Linked DNA regions of Homo sapiens: all the other regions are linked to region 3. The links come from fine-mapping of genetic effects on gene expression. A gene starts in region 3. Each other region holds a variant in brackets. All regions are shown on one strand. Distances are from middle to middle.

Region 1 (2,748 bases), 130 kb before region 3:
TGCAGTGCACAATGATCATGTCTATGAACAGCCATGGCACTCCAGCTTGGGCAACATACAGAGACCCCATCTCTACAACACACACACACACACACACACACACACACACACACACACTAGCTGGGCGTGGTGGTAGTGTGTGCCTGTGGTCCCAGCTACTCAGGAGGCTGAGGCAAGAGGATCACTTGAGCTCAGGAGGTCAAGGCTGCAGTGAGCCATGACCACGCCACTACACTCCAGCCTGGGCAACACAGTGAGACCTCGTTTGAAAAATAAAAGAATAGGCCTGGCATGGTGGCTCATGCCTGCAATACCAGCGCTTTGGGAGGCCAACGCGGGTGGATCACCTGAGGTCAAGAGTTCAAGACCAGCCTGGCCAACATGGTGAAACCCCACCTCTACTAAAAATACAAAAAAAATTAGCCGGGCATGGTGGCGGGCCCCTGTAATCCCAGCTTCTGGGGAGGCTGAGACAGGAGAATCGCTTGAACCCAGGAGGCGGAGATTGCAGTGAGCCCAGATTAAAAAAAGAATAAACTATGGATACACGAAACAACACAGGTGAATGCAAGGGAATCATGCTCCAAAGATTATCCGCTCTGATTCCATTTACCTGGCATTCTCAAAATAACAAAATTACAGACGGGTAGGGGGAAAATGGCTTAGTGGTTGCAGGTGTTGAGGGGAGAGATGAAGTTATGGAAGAGCAGCTGGAAGGATCCTGTGCAGATGGGCTGTTTGTTGACTATGGTTGAGATTACACAAATCTGCCCATGAGGAAACCGCACACTGTTAACTACAGGCAAAACTTCCCTAGTCCAAAAATCCTAAATCTGAAATGTTCCAAAATCCAAGTCTTTTTGAGCAGCGACTTGACGTGCTCAAAGGCAATGCTCATTGGGGCATTTCAGATTTTTAGATTAGGGATGCTGAACCTTAGCTAACTATATAATGCAAGCATTCTGAAATGTGAAAAAATCTGAAATCCGAAACACTGCTGGTCCCCCCAGCATTTCGGATAAGGGATCCTTGACCCGTATGCGCGCGCGCGCGCGCACGCACACACACACACACACACACACACGCGCGCGTGCGCCCGCGCACAGCTGTTCGCTGGTGGGTGTTGCGTGGGCCAGGGTGGAGGGAGGATGAATGTCCCACTTTGTCCCCAGGAACTCTGAGCCTCTGACCCTGAGTCACTCCCACTGCCAGTGGGGGGTCGGGGCGGGGCGGAGGAGTCGGGGCAGGTCGTCGGGGGAGGTTGGTAGGGGAGGGAGGTGGGGAGATATTGAGCCTATGTCTCTTATCTCTGGGGTGGGCCCAGCTGTTACCTGTCCTCCGCCTCCCCTTCAGGCTCAGGGTCTGAGTCCTCCACCTCAAGGCCGGCTCCATTCAGCTTCACGTCCTGCTGTAAAGGCCCCGGGGCCACAGAAGCCAGGTCATCCCCGTAGGTGGAGGACGACGAGGCCGGCAGCCGCTGCTCTGGAAGGAAGGGGGCCTCGGTCGGGAGGGCGTGGCGGGGAGGGGACCCAAGGGCCGAGGGGAGGAGATCCGTGGCCCAGAGCAGCAGCGATGGTGTCCCCGAGGCTAGGCGGGGGGTAGGGTCCTCACCGAGGGCGCAGCAGCTGGGAGGCGCGGGCTCCAGGGGCGCGGCCTGGCGGCAGGCGGCCTCCCGCAGGCGGCAGGCGCTGGCGTAGACCACCCCGT[C/T]GGAGCCGCACACCGGGTTCCCCTGGGCGCCGCAGTCGTGGTCGCAGCCGCATCGCGCGATCGCCGCCCCCTCCTCAGGGGCCACGGCAGGGCCCGACTCGCCGGGGAACCAGCCTGGGGGACGAGGCAGGCTCGACAGACCCCCCACCCTGAACCTTGCCCGCGCCCCCACAGAACCTGGGGGTGGGGAAGATGTCCCTGGGTCCCGGGCCCACTACCCCCTCGGTGGGTCTTGGGGCGCGACAGTTAATGGGAGGTCCTGAGCCCTGGCCTTATGGAATTTCACGCAGGTATTTGCCTAATACTTACAAAAACAGAAACAGACTTTTAAAAAGCGGTTGTAGGAGAGAAAGGAGACAGGGCGTCCTGTCTGGGCCGCCCTGCAACAACAGCCCCGTCCCCTGCCGCGCCTCCTCCGCACTGACCACACCCACCCCAACCCCACCCCCACCGCACTGACCGCTCCTATCCTCAACCCCGCCCCCTCCGCGGTGACCACACCTACCCTCAACCCCGCCCCCTCCGTCCTGACCACTCTTAACCCCGCCCCCTCCGCACTGACCACACCCACCACAAATCCCGCCCCTCAGCGCTGACCGCACCCACCCTCGACCCCGCCCCCCGCACTGACCACACCCACCGCAACCTCATCCCCTCAGCACTAACCACATCCACTCTCAACCCCGTCCCCTTCGCACTGACCACACCCACCCCGTTCGGCCCCGCCCCCCGCACTGAACACACCCGCCCTCAACCCCGCACCCTCCGCACTCACCTCCCCCTCGCCGCTCGACCCCGCCCTCACCACACTGACCACCCTCAACCCATTGCGCCCAGTCCCCACCACAGTGACCACACCCTCACTGGCTCGGCCCTGCCCCCAGTATACTGACCATTCCCCAGCCACTTCCCTTCCGCACTTACCACTCCCCCAGCCACGCCCCTCCCCGCTGACCGCTCCTCCAGCCCCGCCTCCCCCGTACAGGCAGAGCGCCCGCCCACCTCTATGCTGCGTTCTCCTGACTTTACGTTGGCCCCTCC
Region 2 (2,748 bases), 25 kb before region 3:
AGGGCCCAGCCTCAGGAAGGCCAGGTTGACATAGTGTGGCCACTAGTACAGTGATGGATGCAGCTCCCTCCACACCCTGCATCCTGTCCTGACAGCCCTCCCTGCAGCCTGGAATCGGGACAGAAGATGCCAAGGCCCTCCGATCCTCTGCACCAAGCCTCCAGATGGACAGAAAAAGAGACCAAGGGTCAGAGAGGAACTCTGGAACTGAGAAGGCTAGGTTGGTGCCACCTCTGGAGCAGAGTAGTGCAGAGGCATGAGCGACTGAGAGGCACCTGAGCCTAAGCGCCCTATTAAGCTCGACTTTGAACCAAGGACCGAACTTCTCTGAGCCTGTTTCCTCACCCAGAGAATGGGACTCAAACTACCCTCTCAGGGGTGATAGTGAAACTTAAATGTCTGTATGTCACTCCTGATGCAGAGGGAATGCTGGTGGATGGGGAACAGGAGCAAAATGAGAGAGTGCAGGCTGGGCATGGTGGCTTATGCCTGTAATCCCAGCACTTTGGGAGGCCAAGGTGGGCAGATCACTTGAGGTCAGGAGTTCGAGACCAGCCTGGCCAACATGGTGAAACTCTGTCTCTACTAAAAATACAAAAATTAGTTGGGTGTGGTGGCACATGCTTGTGATCCCAGCTACTAGGAGAAGCTGAGGCAGGAGAATCAATTGAGCCCGGTAGGCAGAGGTTGCAGAGAGCTGAGACTGTCACTACACTCCAGCCTGGGCGACAGAGTAAGACTCCGTCTGAAAAAAAAAAAAAAAAAAAAAAAACAAGGATCAACCCCTCTCGGGTCAGCACACTGGCGGGGGTGCTGTTGGATGCCAGGGAGGCCTGCAGAGGGCGGGGAGCAGCCTTGGGGGAGAGGGGAACATGGTGGGGTTGGGAGGGTCACACCCTGGGGGGTAGGGCATTCTTTGGGGAGGGGAGACCCTTGGGGAGGGAAGAACTTAGAGTGGAAGGGCAGGACTTGAGGAAGGAATACACAGCGGGAGAGGGGCATGCTTTGGAGAGACAGGGGCGTGCTCATAGGGGTGAGGACACCAGCATGGAAACAAAGACAGGCAGTGGGTAGAGTGCAAGAGACTCATGTGGCAGGGAGACACCGAGTACTAGGGAGGGAGCGGGGCACAGGGCACCCTTGTGGGAGCAGGGAGGCCATGGAAGAAGTGTCTGCCTGTAGGAGGAGGGGGAAGCCCGGTTGTTGGGGGAGATGGAAGGGGAGGGCAGAGGAGGGGCCCAGGGGGAGGAAGATGCTCTAGGGAAAGGGGTACACTCCAGGGAGGGGGTGCCCCCAGGGGAGGGGCACGGGAAAGGATGATGCTCTAGCGGGTGGCCACATCCTGGGGAGGGGAACCCACAGGGGAGGAGCCCAGCAGGGAGGGAGATACTTTAGAGGGAGG[A/G]GGACACCCCAGGGAGGAGGCGCCCACAGGGGAGGAGCCTGGTGGGGAGGGAGATACTCTAGGGGGAGGGGCACCTCCTGAGGAGGGGGCGCCTACTGGAGAGAGTCACAGGAAGGGAGATGCACTAGGGGAGGGGCACACCCCAGGGAGGAGGGAACCAGGAAGGGAGGGGCACACCCATGTGGGAGGGAGGGAGGCAGCAGAGGAGGGGAACGACCTTGAGGGAGCAGCGTGATGGTTGGGGAAGGGGAAGGGCCCCCCCAGTGTGCCCCAGGGGTCCCTCTTTCTCACCTGGCCCGCACAGTGCCTGTCTCACAGGCGTCCAGGTCTTGGATATACCGGGGCGGGTCAATCAGAAGCTCAAACTTGGGCAACACTGAAGAAAGCAAGCAGAGAGGAGGGGCTGGCTTCTGTCCCTAAGGTGGCCTCAGGAGCCCTGACACCGGTGCAAGGTGTCTGAGGACCACAGCACCTGGCCACCACCGAGGTTGACACTGTACCCATCCACACCACTCTGCTGAGCAGCCCTGGGGATTTTGTGGGCTGCATCTATTTCTCATCTTTGGGGGACTAGGACCCCATTTTCCTCAAGGGGCCTCCCCTGTCACTTTTAGACCACGTGCTTAGAGTGTGGCGGATTCCAGCCTATCCCAGGGTGGACACGAGGCCAGGAGGCTCCTCCTAGCCCCTGTGTCTGTGCATGGGATAGAGGTGGCCCTGGGAGCCAACAAGGGGCATCCCCAGGGTGACTGCAACAGAGAGCTGATTTCTCCATTTGCTTCTGGACTCAGCCCTGGGAGTATCAAGCCATCTTGTCACCAGGGGCGGAGGTGACACCCTGGAGCAGCCGGTAAACCAGAAAGAATCGGGTCCTGAGAGAACTCTTGTAGGAGCCTAAGAATCTTTTCGTTCTTTCTTTTCTTTTCTTTTCTTTTCTTTTTTTTTTTGAGACAGATTGTCACTGTGTTTCCCAGGTTGGTGTGCAGTGGCACGATCTTGGCTCACTGCAACCTCCTCCTCCTGGTTCAAGCAATTCTCCTGCCTCAGCCTCCCAAGTAGCTGGGACTGCAGGCACATGCCACCACGCCTGGCTAATTTTTGTATTTTTAGTAGAGATGGGGTTTCACCATGTTGGCCAGCCTGGTCTTGAACTCCTGACCTCTAGTGATCTACCCACCTCAGCCTCCCAAAGTGCTGGGATTACAGACGTTAGCTGCCATGCCTGGCCACCTTTTTTTTTTTCTGAGACAGGGTCTCACTTTGTCACCCAAACTGGAGAATAGTGGTGCAATCACAGTTCACTGCAGCCTTGATCTCCTGGGCTCAAGCAATCCTCCCGCCTCAGC
Region 3 (2,748 bases):
GGAGCCAAGGTCTGTCATGTGGGGCCGCGTCATTCCTTGCAGTGGAAGCTGACCTGCACATCGAAAGCTGTTTACCAGCATTCCTGGCCTGCACCCACTTAATGCCAACACCAAATGCCTCTCCCTATTTGTGACAACCAAAAATACCTCCAGACATTTCCCAGCGGCCTCAGGGAGACAAAAATCCCCCCCAGGGCTGAGAACCACTATTCTAAGGGATGCCAGCTTTGAAAGAAGCATTAGGATGAAAATTTGTAGGGTTCCGATTTCACGAAGCCTAGGAGAGGGAAGTCTGGATGCTCAGAGCGCAGTAGACTGTCTTGCTTTTAAAACTGTGACCAGCAAGGACCAACTACTCACTGCAAATAACGACACCCACCTAGTCTCACTGCTTACCAGTTTTCTGGAAACTCCTAAACAAGGGCTGCTTGAACAAGCCGCCTTCTAAACGCCCAGCTGGACTAAAAGGCTGGTCTTGTGCAGACCAGGGCAGCCCCCCTGAACCCGCAGCCCTGCAGAGCTCACCCGAACTTGCCAGGTTTAGAAATATTCTCTGTGAAGCCAACTTAGCAGTACTCCCCAGCAGTTAGTTAATTCACCTTCTCCCCGCTGTCAACCCACCAGAAGCCTGCAAGCAAACCTCTAGAAAAATGTAGAAGCAAAACAAACACTTCCTCCTCCCTCACCACGCCCACCCACGGGAAAGTGCCCCTTCGCACTCTCCTCCCACTTCTCAGCCAAGACGCTCCTCTTACCTTCATACCTTGGACAACTGGAAATCGCCACCCATGATGACAGCCCGGGTCACACGAAGGGGGCGAGGTGGGGCGGGGGGAGCTGACCTCAGCACCTTTAGCTTTTGGGAGTCCCTGTACCTCCACAGAGCCACTTCGGAAACTTTAGGGCGCCCCCTCCTCAAGACGATTCGGGAACAAGAGGCCAGGTCCAGCCCAGCGCGGAGGCTGTGTGGCCTTGGGCAGGTCGCTGCAACACTCTGAGCCAGTACCCGCGACCCCCACCCCAGAAGGCGACCGACCTCCTCTGTCGCCGGAGGATACTCACGGGGCCTGAGGCTGCGCGGCGCGCACGCCGTCCCGCGCCGACAGCAGCAGGAGCAGGAGCGGGAGCAACGGCCAGAGCAGGGCGCCGCTCATTTTTCGGCTCCTGGGGGGCGCCGCGCCTGGGGAGGGGGCCGGGCCAGGGCTGGGCCAGGGCCAGGGTCCGAGCGCGGCCGTCCTCGCGCCGCCGCCGGGGGCCCTTTGTTCGCAGCCCCCGCGCAGTGCGCCCGGCGCCATGCGCCCCGCTCCGCGCCCGGCCAAGCTGGGGCAGCCCCGGGCCAGCCCCCTCCCCGGACCCGCCTCGTCTCCGGGACCGCCCCGCTCGCCCCGCTCGCCCCGCTCCTGGGCGCACCCTCCCGGGACGCCTGCTCCGCCCATCTCCGGACCCCGACCCGCCCCGATCCCTTCCGGGGATCGTCCCCTCACTTACTCACCGGACCCACCCGGGCCCTGCCCGATTCCTTCCGAACCCGCCTCCTCACCCCCTACCCGGATTCGCCCCCGGATGCCCCCCTCCCCACCAGCCCCGCCTCGGACCCGACCCCCCACCGCCCCCACTCTCCCTCTCCTCTCCACCCAGCGTCCACTCGGAACCTGTCCCTTCCCTGGCCTCTCCCTCCCTCCCTCCCCAGCCAGCCCCTTATGGCCCCCTCCCCGGGCCCGCCCCTCACCAGGGGCCCCTGGGTCTGGACGCCGCCTGCAACCCCGATCCCACAGGCGCCGCCGTGCCCTAAGCCCTGGCCTGTATCTAGTGCCCAGTGCAGTGCGTACAGCCCAAGGAGCAGAGGACCCTTTGGGGAAACAGTCTAGCCAGGGGTCGAACCTCCCAGACTCACATCTGCCCCAGGTCCCTATCTGTGCTCTCTGCTCCCCTCTCCCCCACCCCCACTGTCCACAAATCCCTTGGGCCCGTCCCCTCTCTCGCTGGGCCTCAGAGTCCCCCTTTCCCCTTCATACAGCAGGGGTGGATGGGCACCCCCTTTCTCTCCAAGAGCAGGGTGTCCCCTCCTGCCCCTCCCCGTGTGGCCACCTCAGTGATGGTCCTGCTGTCCTAGGTCCCACTGGCAGGCGGCACATCCTATACCATGTCCAAGTCCTGGACCCCCTCCTTCCAGTGTGGAACCCCCTTCCCCCAGCTACCAACTGCCCTTCTTCTAAAATTCCAGTGCTGACCACACCCCCTCCTGCCCGGAATCCTCGGGGCTCCCTGTTTATTTTACATTTTATTTTTATGTTTTGAGACCAGAGTTTTGCTCTGTTGCCCAGGCAGGAATTTAGTGGTGCAGTCACAGCTCACTGCAGCTTCAGACTCCTGGAGAGTAGCTGGGACTACAGGTGCAAGCCCGCACCCAGCTAATTTTTATATATTTTTTTTTAGAAACGGAGTCGCACTGTGTTGCCCAGGCTGGTCTTGAGCACTGGGCTCAAATGATCCTCCCTCCTCAGCCTCCCAAAGTGCTGGGATTACAGGTGTGAGCCACCACATCCAGCCAGGGCTTCCCGTTTATTGAGACCAAATCTAAACTCTGGCTTTGATGGCAGAGACCTCAGCCTAGTTCCTCCAACACCCTGTTCTTACTCCACTGCCTGCTTCTGCCTAATCTCTGTCTTCCTCTACCTGCCTCCTTTGCCAGTCCAACTCCTGATCCTTCCAGGAAACTCAAGGGAAGCTTCTCTTGCCCCCTCCCTG

What was found.
Region 1: its variant is fine-mapped to the expression of CPAMD8 in fibroblasts (GTEx, PIP 0.99).
Region 2: its variant is fine-mapped to the expression of CPAMD8 in whole blood (TOPMed, PIP above 0.99). The same link has a PIP of 0.9 or more in T cells.

Annotation. Positions count from the first base shown.
Region 1 is chr19:16,894,845-16,897,592 of GRCh38, forward strand. CPAMD8 (C3 and PZP like alpha-2-macroglobulin domain containing 8) reads right to left here. Exons shown (of 42, transcript NM_015692.5): 40 at 1,612-1,821; 41 at 1,332-1,482. Among named protein-coding and RNA genes, the nearest start is that of F2RL3, 7.2 kb to the left of the region's middle. RefSeq lists silencers at 2,002-2,081, 2,132-2,351, 2,422-2,748. The variant C/T (reference allele first, on the strand shown) is at 1,708.
Region 2 is chr19:17,000,573-17,003,320 of GRCh38, forward strand. CPAMD8 (C3 and PZP like alpha-2-macroglobulin domain containing 8) reads right to left here. Exons shown (of 42, transcript NM_015692.5): 9 at 1,694-1,778. Among named protein-coding and RNA genes, the nearest start is that of CPAMD8, 25 kb to the right of the region's middle. The variant A/G (reference allele first, on the strand shown) is at 1,403.
Region 3 is chr19:17,025,489-17,028,236 of GRCh38, forward strand. CPAMD8 (C3 and PZP like alpha-2-macroglobulin domain containing 8) reads right to left here and starts at 1,322. Exons shown (of 42, transcript NM_015692.5): 1 at 1,063-1,322. The coding sequence starts at 1,154. RefSeq lists an enhancer at 1,494-2,402.